Homo sapiens: one gene and its partner. The protein of the gene in region 1 interacts with the protein of each later gene in a pairwise test. Each region holds a gene or a part of one and is shown on either strand. Other genes may lie near its edges.

Region 1 (7,566 bases):
CAGCACTTTGGGAGGCCAAAGTGGGAGGATCACTTGAGTCCAGAAGTTCAAGATCAGCCTGGGCAACATAGAGAAACCCCGCCTATACAAAAAAGAAAAAAAATGTTTTAATTAGCCACCTGCAGTCCTGGTGCACCTGGGTGGCACAGACCTGTAGTCCCAGCTACTTAGGAGGCTGAGGTGGGAGGATGGCTTGAGCCCAGGAGGCTGAGGTTGCAGTAAGATGTAATTGTGCCACTGAACTCCAGCCCGGGTGACAGAGCCAGACCCTGTCTCAAACAAACAAACAAAAAAAAGCTTTCTGAGCCTCAGTTTTAACACCTGTAAGATGAGTGTGAAACTCCATCTGAAGCCCCCCAGTCTCCTCCTATAGGTTTTTGATTTAGGCCTCCCAACAAATCAAGTATGACTGAAATCCACTAAATGTCTCGAACTATGGTCTGATATCCATCAGAATCACTAGGCTTGGGTCAGGGCGAGAGGTCCTCATTCAAATGCACATTCTAAGGTCTCAACTGCAGACCTGCTGAGTCACAAGCCCTGGGGTGGGGCCCAGGAATCTGCATTTTAACAAGTCCCCTGGTGCACAAGGAAATTTGAGACCCACTGTGCCCGACAGCTTGTGCACATGGAAATTTGTTCTGCCAAAGTTTCTCAGATAAAAACAGAGAGGTTCTAGCCACTGTCAGGTCAAAGCTCTGGAGAGCTGTGCCATCTCCCAAAGGGAGCAGAACGGTTTGCCATCAAGCCAGGCAAGAGCCCATTTCTGCCTGTGCAGCTCGCAGTCTCCGAGCCTGCTGTTGTTTCATATCTTGATTGCTTATCACTCACCCAAAATAACCTGAATGCAATCGCACCAGCTGCAGCTCTCTCTGCAACTCCCTTAATTTAGCAGCCAAACACATTGGGTTCCTTCACAGAGCACAAGGCCTCAGCACGGGGCCCAGGAAGGGGCCCCTCCCTCCCAGCTGTCTGTAGTGAGTTGAATCATTTCCCCCTGGAATTCATGTCCACCTGGAACCTGAGAATGTGACTTTATTTGGAACTAGAGTATTTGCAGGTTTAATTAATAAGGATCAAGATAAGATCACACAGGATTAGGGTGGGCCCTAAATCCAATGACTGTTGTTAAAAGAGGAGAGAACAGAAGAGACAGAGACTGGAGTGATGCAGCAATAAGCTGGGGAATGCCACGGACTGCCCACTGCCGCCACAAGCTAAAAAGAGCCAAGGAAGGATTCTTCCCCAGAGCCTTCAAAGGGACCACAGCCCTGCCAACACCTCCATCCCAGATTTCCAGCCTCCAGAACTGTAAGGGAATCAAGTTCTGCTGTTTCAATCCACCAGGTTTGTGGTAATTCGTTAGAGCATCCCTAGGAAACCAACACAGCATCACTGCCATAGGCCCCCGGCCTGGCTCAGCGCCCACTCAGCCCCACTCTGGCGGGAAGGAAAGGGCCCCACCTGCAGGCGATTCTCCAGATGGGCAGTTTAACGTGGCCTGTTAGGATCAGAGCTAGTTTCTCCCAACCGACATCTTTGAATTCTGCATCTACTAGGCCCATTTCCCACATAAGGAGAAGGACCCTTCTGTCCTCTGCTTGAAAGGCTGTATTCCAAGAAGGGCTGAGTTTGGTAGTGACAAATACTGGTCCTTGGGCAGTGTCTGGCCGGCGGTGCCATGCAAGATGAGTCCCTACAGCTTCATGCCACTCCGGCGCCGTGAGTCCTTCCGGGCAATGGGGCTGAAGTTCACAATCTCCTTGTAGATGTGCTCTGAGAAAGGCAGCATGGTTTAAGGTGCGTAAAGAGGTGCTGTGGCGAGAAAGTCCACCCCCCTTCAGAGACAGCATGGAGAGCGAAGTCAGCTCAAGGAGAAAGAAGCACCCAGGAGACAATGCCCACCAAGAAGGAGGTGGCAGGTAGGGCTGGCAGAGGCCAGGCACAAAGATGGAGGAAGCAAGGAAGAGAGGCTGCAGGCGGAGGCGAGGAAGCCCGAGGCCCCAGCTCTTACGCTTCCATTCATCCACTGTGAGTTTCTCGTGTTCTAAGGAATCATCAAACGGCTGCTGGGCCTCCGTCTCTTCCTCAGGGTCCCGGAAGGGTTCAAAGAAGGGATGGGTGAGGGCCTGCGCGGCCGTCAGGCGCTTGTCCACGTCTAGCTCCAGCATCTTCTCCAGCAGGTCCGCAGCTGCAGGGGCAGAGCCAAGAGCCTCACACCAGGGGCTGGGAGAGCCCGCCCTCTGGGATACGCTGAGAGGCCCCTGGGGAGCGGGCTCTGAGACTCACCCTGGGGGCTGGCCCGTGGGAACAGCTGAGTGAAATCCTTCCTGGGGGTCTGTGGCAGGGACTGGATGTAGGATTTGGCCTGGAAGACAGAAAAGCATCAAACCCCTTAGGGCTCTGGCCTCAGCGTGTAGAGCAGGGATTTCAGAAAAGCCTCAGAGCAGGGCTGAAAGTTCAGGTCAGGGTCCACGGTGAGATTAAGACAAGAGTGCCTGCCAGGGTAGGAGGATGCTGTGGGAAGGTGCTGGTGAGCCTTCTTCCACAAAGGCCTGCAGCCCACTGGGCCCACGTCAGGCAAGCACACAGCCCAGGCCAGCCTAGGTCCCATTTACCACCCACCGCTTTGTCGTTCAGCTTCTGCACAAACTCCGTGCCAGGCACCCCGGTCACTTTCAGGATCTGGGTCAGCTGGTCCAGGTCTTGGTGGCAGGTTAAGGCTTAGCCTTGCTCTCCTGGTGGGTCTGAGACTGCCCTTCCTGCGACCCCACCATCACTTCACCCGGGCACCATGGCAACTGATCATCCAGGCTCCAGCCCTGCCTAACCACCTCCTGCTCTCAGGAGGAGGCTTATTCTTCAGGGCTCAGGGCTCTGGAGAGCTTTCCAACGTGCCAGGCTGAGGGGGGTCCCTACCCAACAAATGGATGTGGACTTCTCAGCCTTCATCCCAGTGACTCTTTTCTGTTTCCTCGTCTTCTCACCAAAGGCCTGCCCTGCACACACAGGTACTCAGTTAATGTGTGCCGTGCCAAAATGTATTTTCCACGTAGTGGTAGAATTTTTCATCATTTTGCTTATCTACATTTTTTTTTTTTTTTTTTTTTTGAGACAGGGTCTCACTCTGTCACTCAGGCTGGAGTGCAGTGGCACAGTCTTGGCTCACTGCAACCTCCACCTCCTGGGTTCAAGCGATTTTCCTGCCTCAGCCTCCCGAGTAGCTGGGATTACAGGCGTGAACCACACCCGGCTAATTTTTGTATTTTTTGGTAGAGATGGGGTTTGACCACGTTGGCCAGGCTGGTCTCGAACTCCTAATCTCAGGTGATCCGCCTGCCATGGCCTCCCAAAGTGCTGGGATTATAGGTGTGAGCCACCATGCCCACCCAACATTTTGTTTTTTTTTTTTTTTTTTTTGAGTTAGGGTCTCCCTCTGTCACCCAGGCTGGAGTACAGTGGCACAATCATAGCTCACTGCAGCCTCAACCTCCCAGGCTCAACCCTCCCACCTCAGCCTCTCAAGTAGCTGGGATTTTTCTTTTTCTTTTTTTTGAGACAGAGTCTTGCTCTGTCACCCAGGCTGGAGTGCAGTGGCGCGATCTCAGCTCACTGCAAGCTCCACCTCCTGGGTTCACGCCATTCTCCTGCCTCAGCCTCCTGAGTAGCTGGGACTACAGGCGCCTGCCACCACGCCTGGCTAATTTTTTGTATTTTTAGTAGATACGGGGTTTCCCCTTGTTAGCCAGGATGGTCTCGATCTCCTGACCTCATGATCTGCCCGCCTCAGCCTCCCAGAGTGCTGGGATTACAGACATGAGCCACTGCGCCAGGCCCATGTCTGGCTAATTTAAAAAACTTTTTTAGAGATGGGGTCTCCCTATGTTGCCACATCTGGTCTCAAACTCCTGGGCTCAAAGGATCCTTCCACCTCAGCCTCCCAAAGTGCTGGGATTACAGGCATGAACCACTGCGTCCAGCCTTATCTGCATTTACAAATTATTCTACAGGGAGTATGTATCACTCTCACATTAAGAAAAAAAAGACAGTTATTTAAATAAAGTGTCTGTTGAAGGAAGGAATCCCTAGATGGAGTTTGGCTTTTCCAGCAAAGGATACAATCTTTCCCCTTGAACAGAGTTTTCCCTGTCAGCATCTCTGCCATGATACAGCCCACAGACCAGATGTCCACTGCAGAGGGAGGGAGAGTGTCACCTGGACTGTCTGGGGCCCAGCAGTCAGTCAGCACCGAGTGACCAGATGGCCCCAGGACCGCCCTCTCAGGCATTGACCACTGACCTGTCTGGTTGTAGTGCATCCAGCTGAGGATCACCTCGGGGGCTCGGTACCAGCGGGTCACCACGTAGCCAGTCATCTCGGCGTCTGCATGTCGCGCCAGCCCAAAATCCAGAATCTATGGCACAGGGGATAAATAGAAAAGGAACTTGCTGAGGGGAGGAGGCTCTGGGAGCGGCTTCCAGGGGCTTCCCTGGGGGAGGGCCTATCCCGCCTCTGGGCTGAGCCTGCAGCCCACTCACCTTCAGTTCACAGTCCTCATTCACAGCCAGGTTGCCTGGCTTCAGGTCCTGGGGGGAGGACAGAGAATGCATGCTAGGCTGAGGCAGAGATGGAGCTTGTCCTAGCTCCACCACCACCCAGGGGTGTGACCTCAGCCAGGCCCCTTCCCCTTCTGGGCCTCAGTTTCTTCATGTGTAAAATGAGGGTTGGACTAGGTGTTCTCTCAGGGCCCACCCAGCTCTAAAATGTTCCTGATTCTTGAAGCCTGAAACACTCAGCTCAGGGCTCACTTTGTCTGCAGCAATTCCCCATGAAGTCCCCTGGGACACAGTGACTCTTTTGAGCAGGCCTTCCTGGGCCGTGGCTGGGTGTGAAAACTCCACATTCTGTGCTCCTGGGCAGTGTCCCCTCCCTCCAACTTTCCCACTCCTTGATTGCCAGAGAACCCCATACCCAGGGATGGGACAGGGGCCTCTGAGGACCATGGCAGAGAAAGCACTCACCCTGTGCACGACCCCAGCAGAGTGGATGTACTATGTGGGAGAGAGAGAAGGGTGAGTCCATGGCCCAGCTTCCACACCAGGCACTTCAGGCTGGCCGACCTGTAACAGTGCGCTCCCTCCAGCCTCCCCAAACCTCAGGTCTAGACAGCAAGGCGTCCCCTCTGCCAGCCTCCAAGTCCCCACCCACCTTAAGGCCTTTGAGCATCTGATACACCAGGTACTGGATCTTCTCCTCACTGAACTCCATCCCCATGATCTTCTGCAGATCCGTCTGCATGAAGGGCATCACCAGGTAGCTGGAAGGCATGAGGGGTTCTTGGAACAGTGCCGGGTCCCACCCAGCCCCAGGTCAGAGCTCAGAGGAGGGACCTCAGGGCAGAACAGGGGTCATAGAGACACCCTCCAGTGTGCAAAAACTCAACTCCACCTCAGCCAGCCAGATCACCACACGGGCCTCTGGGCTCCTGGCTCCCAGTCTCCCTGTGGCGGGCCGCCCAGCTGGCAGAGCTCGGAGTAAGCGCTGCAGTTGGAGCGCGCTCAGGAAAGCCACATGGAACTGTGTTCCCGCTCTTCAAAGGTACTCTCTCCTTGCCCTCCTCCACACCCCAGGGAAAGCCACAGCTAGGAGTTAGAAACATCTGCCAGTATTTCCTTCGGCTTCTGTCCAAATATTTGATCCCTCAGAGGGTCATGCCCAGCTGAGATGGCTCCACAAACAAACAATATGTCTACCTTTCCAAGAAGGAAACAATACAACAGTTTCCAGGAGGGTGGAAGAGGGAGATGGGGAGGCTCCTGCAGCCTCTTAGGGGATTGCACAACAGGATAAGGCCAGCAAAATGTAACTGTTACAGTAAAAGCAAAGACCAGGACAAAGACAAAAAATAATAAAAATTATAAAATAGGCCAGGGGCATACCTCCAATCCCAGTGCTTTGGGAGATGGAGGCTGGACGATCGCTTGAGGCGAAGAGTTTAAGACCAGCCTGAGCAACATAGGGACCCATCTTTCTTTCTTCCTTTCTTTTTTTCTTTGAGATGGAGTCTTGCTCTGTCGCCCAGGCTAGAGTGCAGTGGCGTGATCTTGGCTCACTGCAACCTCCACCTCCCAGGTTCAAGCGATTTTCCTGCCTCAGCTTCCCTGAGTAGCTACAACTACAGGTGCACGCCAGAACGCCCAGCTAATTTTTGTATTCTTAGTAGAGACGGGGTTTTGCCATGTTGGCCAGGCTGGTCTCGAACTCCTGACCTCAGGTGATCTGCCTGCCTCGGCTTCCCAAAGTGCTGGGATTACAGGCGTGAGCCACCATGCCCGGCCTGGACCCCACCTTTCAGAAAAAAAAAAAAAAATTAGCCAGGTGTGGTGGCATGCACCTTTAGTCTTAGCTACTCAAGAGGCTGAGGTGGGAGGATCACTTGAGGCCGGGAATTCGAGATCAGGATGAGTAACATAGTGAGACCCCATATCTATAAAAATTAAAACAAAACAAAAAGCTGGACATGGTGGCATGCATCTGTAGTCCCACCTACTTGGGGGGCTGAGGCGGGAGGATGGCTTGAGCCTAGGAGTTGGAGGCTGCAGTGAACTGTGTTTGTGCCACTGCACTCCAGTCTGGGCAACCCAGCCCTATCTCTAGAATATAATAAATTTAAAACTTTTTTAAAATGAATGTTACCTTAAACAATTATGTAATAGGTTGTGTTTTTTGTTGTTGTTGTTGTTGTTGTTTTTGAAAGGACATGCTGGAGGCATCTCCAGGAGACTCTGGATTTTGGCAGCCCTCTCCTGCCGGACCACACACCTCCCTTGGGGGCCTCTCCATGCCCAGTCCCCTCCTGTGTCTTTCCCCTCCACTCGGGCACTGGTTCTTTCATCTTGGCAACATGCTTCCTGAAGCCTCTCTGTGCTAGAACCACATTCCCTTGACTTTGCTTCTTCAACTGACCACCCCTTCTCCCTCTCTCACCACCAAACTTCTAGAAAGGGCGGTCCACACTCCTGGATCCCACTGCCTTACCTCCCAGTCCTGAGTTAACCTGGTTTCTGCTTCCCTCCTACTGCCAGACTGCTCAGCTCAAGGTCACCAGTGAACACCCGACAAACACACCATGACTCCCTTTTCTTCTGATCTAACCTTTCACCAAGTCTGAAACTCCCTCTCAATTCTTTGCTGACTCTCCTCTGCCTCCTATCAGGCCCTCTCAGCTTCTTCCATCTGCTCATCCTCTTGGATCTTCTCTTTCATGTTGATATCTGAATCAATACTATCTTACCACATTCTACAATTATCTGTTCCCGGGTGTCAGCTATAACCCATCGGTGATTATTCCAGCACAAATCCACATCCCTAGCCCAGACCTTCGTCTCCTGAGGTTCATATTTATTTGCAACTGTGATTAAACATTGGAATGTTCACAGTTTCTTTAAAAGTAAAGTGTCCAAAATGGAGTTCGTTATCTTTCCCCCAAGATCTGTTCTTCCTCTACCGTGTATTTCAAGCAGGAACCTGCCCATTCCTCCACCTCTGCCACCTCACTCAGCTACT
Region 2 (7,572 bases), on another chromosome or scaffold:
TTCAAGTGACTCTCCTGCCTCAGCCTCCAGAGTAGCTGGGCTTACAGGCTCCCGCCACCACGCCCGGCTAATTTTTGTATTTTCAGTAGAGATGGGGTTTCACCATTTTGTTCAGGCTGGTCTTGAACCCCTGACCTCAGGTGATTCACCTGCCTCTGCCTCCCAAAGTGCTAGGATTACAGGCATGAGCCACCGCGCCCGGCCCACAGTGAAATATTTTTGAGTGTCATGTCTAAATGCCCTGAAACCCAGAGAAGGACAATCTTGTCTCTGCTCGCGGAGCCTCCCACAGCACTTCAATTGTTGCAAGATTTCCTTCTGAGCGTTAAACGTGCATTTCTGGAGACTGGATAGATACGTCAAGTGTATCTTCCCAATGCTTTCAAAAATGCCCCCATCTTCACCCAGAAAACAGACCCCCCCCCCCCGCCACCTGCCTGTCCCTGCAGCTGGGCGTCTGATGGTCACGGCCGTAGCTCCCCTGAAACCCCTCATTCCCCTGCATCAGCCCAGGTCCCACCAGGTTCTGGAGCCTGTACGTTTCCACTCAGGGCCGTTATCTCCACCTGAGGGCCTCTGGCGTCCTGCGGTTGCCGTCCCTGCCCCTGCATTTCCTCTGCTGAACCACTTGGCCTGGGCTGTTTTCCTGACTAGACCCTACTGTATGTAACATACGGCTGGGTTTCTACAAGTGCTAAATAGCCATTGATAACAAACTTAATAGACACACGGCCTTTAAGGAAATCCAATTAATATTGAAAAAGAAGGGGAAGAAAAGAAATTAGCTACTCCCTGCTCATCTAGGGCTTTTCCCAGCACGTTGGGAGTAAATCCTCGAGCTGTGAGACTTCAGCTTCCGCTCAGTCCCTGGGGCTCACATGGCCCCTTTGTGATCTCGGATCAGAAATGAAGTAGAAGTTAAATTACAACTAGGAATAAAATCAGGGCTGGGCGCAGTGGCTCACGACTGTAATCCCAGCACTTTGGGAGGCCGAGGTGGGCGGATCATGAGGTCAGGAGATCAAGACCATCCTGGCTAACGCGGTGAAACCCCGTCTCTACTAAAAATACAAAAAATTAGCCGGGCGTGGTGGCGGGCGCCTGTAGTCCCAGCTACTGGGGAGGCTGAGGCAGGAGAATGGCGTGAACCCGGAAGGCGGAGCTTGCAGTGAGCCGAGATCGCGCCACTGCACTCCAGCCTGGGCGACATAGCAAGACTCCGTCTCAAAAAAAAAAAAATTCAGAACGGCTCTCAGAAGAGGCCATTGATTCTAATAAGCTTCATTTTGTTCATTCACCGGAAATCTACTTCTACCTGCAGGAGTTTACGTCTCAAAGTTTTTCATTTCTACCTAAACAGTAGCTAATATAGGGTTGGCTTCTGAACAGTGGAGTTGTTCTCCATGTTTTCCTGTGATTGTTCCTTTCTCATTTAACTGGGAGTGGATGCATTACATGGGGGTGAGGGCATGGCCCTATCAGGACCCTGGCTGCTTACCTGGATTCCACAGAAGTCCTGGTGTCAAGGCTGGTGGAGCTGCTGCACCAGAGACCCTCAAGCATGAAAACAGGATTGACCAGGACAGCCTCACGGTGCCGAGAACGAAAGTGCCTTCCCTCTCCGCTAATCCACAGCGTCCACCTGCCCGAGAACAGCTCTCCCAGTCCCACCTTCCGTCCCGCTCTGAGGTGAGCGGGGAGAGAAAAGACAGGAATGCGCATTGTGGGCGCTTGGGCTCCGTGGCCGCGTCCATCACCGTCCGTCCACTCTCCGCTGCCTTTGCTTAGTCATGTGGTCGCTGGATGTGTTCAGGAGACGGCAGCGTCTCCACAGCCCACTGAGAGCTTCTGTAACTAAGAAAAAGCTCTTAATAACTTAATGGAGAGTGGACGCTGGGTGTCAACAGCTGACTACAGCTGACCATTTAACAAATCGGCTCTAAAGCCCTTCATGTATGGAGGCTCCGTAACGAGGACTTACATAATTACCTTTTTATGTATGTATGTACGTACTTGTTTATTTATTTATTTTTGAGACAGGGTCTCTCTCTCCCAGGCTGGAGGGCAATGGCGCAATCTTCGCTCACTGCAGCCTTGACCTCCCAGGCTCAAGTAATCCTCCCTCCTCAAGGCGTGTGCCACCACGTTCAGCTAATTTTTTAAATTTTTAGCACAGACAGCGTCTCGCCATATTGCTCAGGCTGGTCTCCACCTCCTGGGCTCAAGCGATCCTCCTGTCTCGACCTCCCAAAGTGCTGGGATTACAGGTGTGAGCCACCGTGCCCAGCCTTCTTGGGCCTCTTCTAAGGGAAGTATATAAGGCTCTGTCCCATGACCTATCACCTCCCACAAGCCCCACATCCTAATACCATCACCTTGGGGGTTAGGGTTTCTTTTTTTTTTTGAGACAGAGTCTCGCTCTGTCACCCAGGCTGGAGTGCAGTGGCGCGATCTTGGCTCACTGCAAGCTCCGCCTCCCGGGTTCACACCATTCTCTTGCCTCAGCCTCCCGAGTAGCTGGGACTACAGGTGCCTTCCAGCATGCCCGGCTAATTTTTTGTATTTTTTAGTAGAGACTGGGTTTCACCGTGTTAGCCAGGATGGTCTCGATCTCCTGACCTCGTGATCTGCCCGCCTCGGCCTCCCAAAGTGCTGGGATTACAGGCGTGAGCCACCACGCCCGGCCAAGGGGGGTTAGGGTTTCAACATACGAACGCTGGGGACAGACACTCAGAATACAGCAGAGGTGTACGTTTAACTTTGAAAGAAACTGCCTCACTATTTTCCAAGGTGGTTAACTCAGTGTTTGCTCTTGCCAGCAAAATTTGATATTGCCAATTTTTAAATTTTAGCCATTCTGGTGGATTTCAAGCAGCATCTCATCGTGGTTTGAATTTCCATTTCATCCATCTTCAAAATTACTGACCCTTTCTTCTGTAGTGCCCAACCAACCATTAGTACCATCCAATGATATTTTTTAAGAGATGGGGTCTTGCTATGTTGGTCAGGCTGGCGTGCAGTGGCTATTCACAGGCGAGATCACGCTCATGGCAGCCTCGAACTCCCGGACTGAAACTACCATCACCCCTCACGCTCCAGAGTTGCTGAGACTACAGACCTGAGCCACCTCGCTCAGATCAATTATGTTTTTAACCAAGGATATCAATTATATTTTTCAGGTCTTTCATTTTCATTTAATAATATCTAAATTAGGCGGGGCGCGGTGGCTCACGCCTGTAATCCCAGCACTTTGGGAGGCCGAGGCTGGTGGATCACTTGACATCAAGAATTCGAGACCAGTCTGGCCAACATGAGGAAACCCCGTCTCTACTAAACATGCAAAAATTAGCCAGGCGTGGTGGTGGGCACCTGTAATCCCAGCTACTTGGGAGGCTGAGGCAGGAGAATCGCTTGAGCCCAGGAGGCGGAGGCTGCAGTGAGCCGAGATCGCGCCACTGCACTTCAGCCTGGGCGACAGAGCAAGACACCGCATCAAAAAATAAATAAAACATCTAAATTACATACAGTAAAATCCTCCTTCCCTTTTTCGAGACAGGGTCTCACTATTAGGTTGGTGCAAAAGTAATTGCGGCTTTTACCATGACTTTCAAAATATTTGCCCGGGCTGGTCTCGAGCTCCCGGGCCGTGGGGATCCTCCCGCCTCGCCTCCCAAGGCGCTGGGACTCCGGACGCAGCCGCCGCGCCCGGCAAAATCCGCGCTTTCAACTGCGCGTCAGGGCCCCTTGGTGAAGGAGCGGGAAGCTCCGCCGGTCTCCATAGCGCCGGCGGCCTGTTCTGCGGGTTCGCGGGGGAGTGAGAGGCGCTTCCTCACTCCTGCTCCAGGACGGGACGACGGCCGCAAACAGTACTCGGGCTCGGAGCACACGAACCCGGAGGCCGCTTCGTTCTCGGAGACGCACAGCGCCCCACGGACGCCAGGCCGGGGCCGGGAGGCGCGAAGAAGCGCCGCCCCGCGCCCGGCCCCGCCCTGGTGGCCTCCCCGGGCCCCAGCCCCGGCCCCCGCCAGCACATTGCGCTCCCCGCGCCTCGCCGGTCCCAGGACCCCGCGTCGGGCTGCCCGCGCCCCGCCTGCCGCGCCCGCCCGTCCGCTCGCCCGTTCCCGCCCGCTTGGGTCCCAGGGCCGGGGCCGCGCCCTCGCCGGGCCTCCGCGAGCGGGGCCGCCGTCCGTGTCCCCCGCGCCGCCCCGGCCGCCTCGAGCGCGGCGCCGTCAGGCAGGGCGCGGGCAGCCCGGCGCGGGGTCCTGGGACGGGCGCGGCGCGGGGCGCGGGCTTCTCGGCGGCTGCGGCCCGGGCGGCGGCGATGCTGTGGCCGCGGCTGGCGGCGGCCGAGTGGGCGGCGCTGGCCTGGGAGCTGCTGGGCGCCTCGGTGCTGCTGATCGCTGTGCGGTGGCTGGTGCGGCGGCTGGGCCCGCGGCCGGGAGGTCTGGGCCGCAGCGGGACCCCAGTTCCTCCGCCAAGCGCGGCCGCCGCCCCCGCCTCAGGTAAGGCCCAGGCGGTCGCTGGGTCCCCGCACCCTGGCCCCTTCCCCGCCCCGACGCCCTCCTCGGGCCTGGGGTCCCGGCCGCGCCCCTGGAGCCGGCAGCAGTTGGGCGAGGCGGCCGGGGAAACCAGGGCCGGTCGGGAAAGGCCATTCCGGCCGCGGAAAGGGCAGTTGCGGGGACTTGGCTTCCCGGGCCGGGGGCGGAGGGGCCACGCCGGGTTCGGGGGTGAGAGCTTTCCCGGGCCCTGGAGCAGCCTCCGGGGAAGGCGGCGGGGGCCCGGCGAGGCGTTAGCGGAGACTCTTGCTGCGGTCTCTCGAGACCTGGGGAGGGATGGCCCAAAGGAGGGCGGCGCGGGGAGGAAACCCCTGGGTCCCGGATGTGTTTGGAACGTGAAGCCATTGCGGTTACTGGTCATGGAACATAAGGCAGAGACGGAAAAGGCAAATGTAACTCAGGGGTTTGGGGCCAGAGGAAGAGGGAGAAGGTGGCCATTTATTGCTTTGCGGTAGACTGTCGGGTCTGGGTGATGTGGAGATCAGAGGTGGGTTTTGGTCGTTTTAAGTTTGAGGTAACTGATACAGTGAACTGTGTATTTCAGCTCCATCCCCTTTTCCTGGCATACAACTCTTGAAATCCCGGGAACCTCCAAAGTGATGTCTTTTGTAGGCTGAGTGGACTGGTGGCCGGCAGCCCCTAGGGAGCTTCTGGATGGGGCTGGTCGCAGGAAAGACCAAGGCAGGGTTAGAGGTTCTGGGGACTTTCAGCCCCACCCCCAACCTCTGGGGAGGAGAGAGGGGTGAAGGTTGCGTTGATCACCAGTGGCTGATGAATCACGCCTGTGAAATGAAGTTCCTGTAAAAACCCAAAAGGGCTGGGTTCAGGGAGCTTCCAGATAGTACGTGGGGGTTCCTGGAGGCGGTGCCCAGAGAGGCCCTGAATTTCCAAGCGCTTCCCCCCGGTTTTACGTCACGCATCTCTTCACCTGTATTCTTTGTAATCCTTTATACTCTGCTGGTAAGTGTAAGTAAAACATGTCTGTGAGTTCGGGAGCCACTCTAGCAAATTACCGCAACCTGAGGAGGTCACCGGGTTACGCCCCGTCGGTCCCAAGCGCAGGTCAAACAACCTGGGCACTGGAAGTGGGGGGCAGTCTTGCGGGGCTGAGCCGTTAACCTGTGGGGGTCTGCTGGTATCTCCAGGAAGACGCTGTCAGAATAGATGACTGAATTAGGATGACAGACGACACCCAGCCTGTGTCCACTGCAGAACTGACGACCTGCGTGATTTGTGGGGAGAAAATCCCCACATACCTGGTGTCCGAAGCATGTTGCAAGACTAGTGGGAGAAACTGAGTTTGTTTTTACTCTAAATTGTCAGACTGTTAGTCACTGCGGAGAGGTGCTTTCTGATGATTGAGTGGGGATTCCTGTCCAATTGTGTGAGTTTGTGTCTCGGCCCTACCACTTTTTTTTTTTTTTTTTTTTGAAATGTAGTCTCGCCCTGTGGCCCAGGCTGGAGTGCAGTGGCGCGATCTCGGCTCACTGCAAGCTCCGCCTCCCGGGTTCAAGCGATTCTCCTGCATCAGCCTCCCGAGTAGCTGGGATTACAGGCGCCTGCCACCACGCCCGGCTAATTTTTGTATTTTTAATAGAGACGGGGTTTCACCATGTTGGCCAGGATGGTCTCGAATTCCTGACCTCAGGTGATCCACCTGCCTCAGCTTCCCAAAATGCTGGGATTACAGGTGTGAGCCATCGCACCGGGCCCTACCACTTATTGCTGTGGGCTTAACCTGTTTTCAGCCTGCTCTTTTAGGAATGGGGATGATAGTGATACCTGGTTAGGCTTTTTTGGGAGTTGGGTAAGTGCAGCACTTGGTATGTGTTAAGCACCTCTGAGTGCTGTTACTGTCACCAGCGGCATCATCCAGGCAGAGCTGCGGACAAGGTGGCGGCGGGTGAGGGTGGTGTTTTGAGAATGGCTGAAATAAAAAAATACTGATTTATTTTATATAAAAATATGTTTTTATATATGATGTATAATATACGTATATCATGGCATATGATACGTGTATATCATATAGCACATATAGTATACATATATATAGTCAGCAGAGATTTAGAGAAACTGGGCCTCGTGCATTGCAGGTGGGGACGGTAAGTGGTGCAGCTACTCTGGGAATCAGCCTGGCAGGTTTTTAGGAAGTTAAACCTGCCCTGCATTCCTGAGCTTTTATTAGACAAATGAAAACTATTTTCACACAAAAACCCATATTTAATGTTCATAGCAACTTTATTTGTAATTACCAGAAACTGAAATAACTCAAATGGTTAAACTTGCACACTGATACCCCGGGGTGCCACTCCGCAGCGATCCTCTCTGCCACGTGGGTGCCCCGGGGTGCCACTCTGCATGATCCACTCTGCCACGTGGGTGCCCCGGGGTGCCACTCCGCAGCGATCCTCTCTGCCACGTGGGTGCCCCGGGGTGCCACTCTGCGTGATCCACTCTGCCACGTGGGTGCCCCGGGGTGCCACTCCGCAGCGATCCTCTCTGCCACGTGGGTGCCCCGGGGTGCCACTCCGCAGCGATCCACTCTGCCACGTGGGTGCCCCGGGGTGCCACTCCGCAGCGATCCTCTCTGCCACGTGGGTGCCCCGGGGTGCCACACTGCGTGATCCACTCTGCCACGTGGGTGCCCCGGGGTGCCACTCCGCAGCGATCCACTCTGCCACGTGGGTGGATCTCAAGGGCATTATGCTGAATAGGAAAAGCCAGTCTCAAAAGTTGTGTACTTGGCCGGTTGCGGTGGCTCATGCCTGTAATCCCAGCACTTTGGGAGGCCGAGGCAGGTGGATCACAAGGTCAGGAGTTCAAGATCAGCCTGGCCAACATGGTGAGGCAGTCTCCACTAAAAATACAAAAAAATAGCGGGGCGTGGTGGCAGGTACCTGTAATCCCAGCTACTCGGGAGGCTGAGGCAGCAGAATTGCTTGAACCCAGGAGGTGGAGGTTGCGGTGAGCAGAGATCGTGCCACTGCACTCCAGCCTGGGCGACAGAGCAAGACTC

What was found.
Region 2: the proteins of MAPK13 (region 1) and ANKLE2 interact in a two-hybrid assay, tested with the Homo sapiens proteins (one study listed by BioGRID and IntAct).

The regions. Positions count from the first base shown.
Region 1 is NC_000006.12:36,133,504-36,141,069, reverse strand, and holds part of MAPK13 (mitogen-activated protein kinase 13), read right to left. Parts: intron 5,318-7,566; coding exon 5,209-5,317; intron 5,052-5,208; coding exon 5,022-5,051; intron 4,587-5,021; coding exon 4,539-4,586; intron 4,415-4,538; coding exon 4,300-4,414; intron 4,192-4,299; coding exon 4,120-4,191; intron 2,706-4,119; coding exon 2,626-2,705; intron 2,369-2,625; coding exon 2,290-2,368; intron 2,192-2,289; coding exon 2,015-2,191; intron 1,777-2,014; coding exon 1,697-1,776; 3' UTR 1-1,696. UniProt on the Homo sapiens protein: Serine/threonine kinase which acts as an essential component of the MAP kinase signal transduction pathway.
Region 2 is NC_000012.12:132,758,548-132,766,119, reverse strand, and holds the start of ANKLE2 (ankyrin repeat and LEM domain-containing protein 2), read left to right. Parts: upstream 1-4,287; 5' UTR 4,288-4,321; coding exon 4,322-4,502; intron 4,503-4,964; exon of another isoform or gene 4,965-5,043; intron 5,044-7,572. UniProt on the Homo sapiens protein: Involved in mitotic nuclear envelope reassembly by promoting dephosphorylation of BAF/BANF1 during mitotic exit.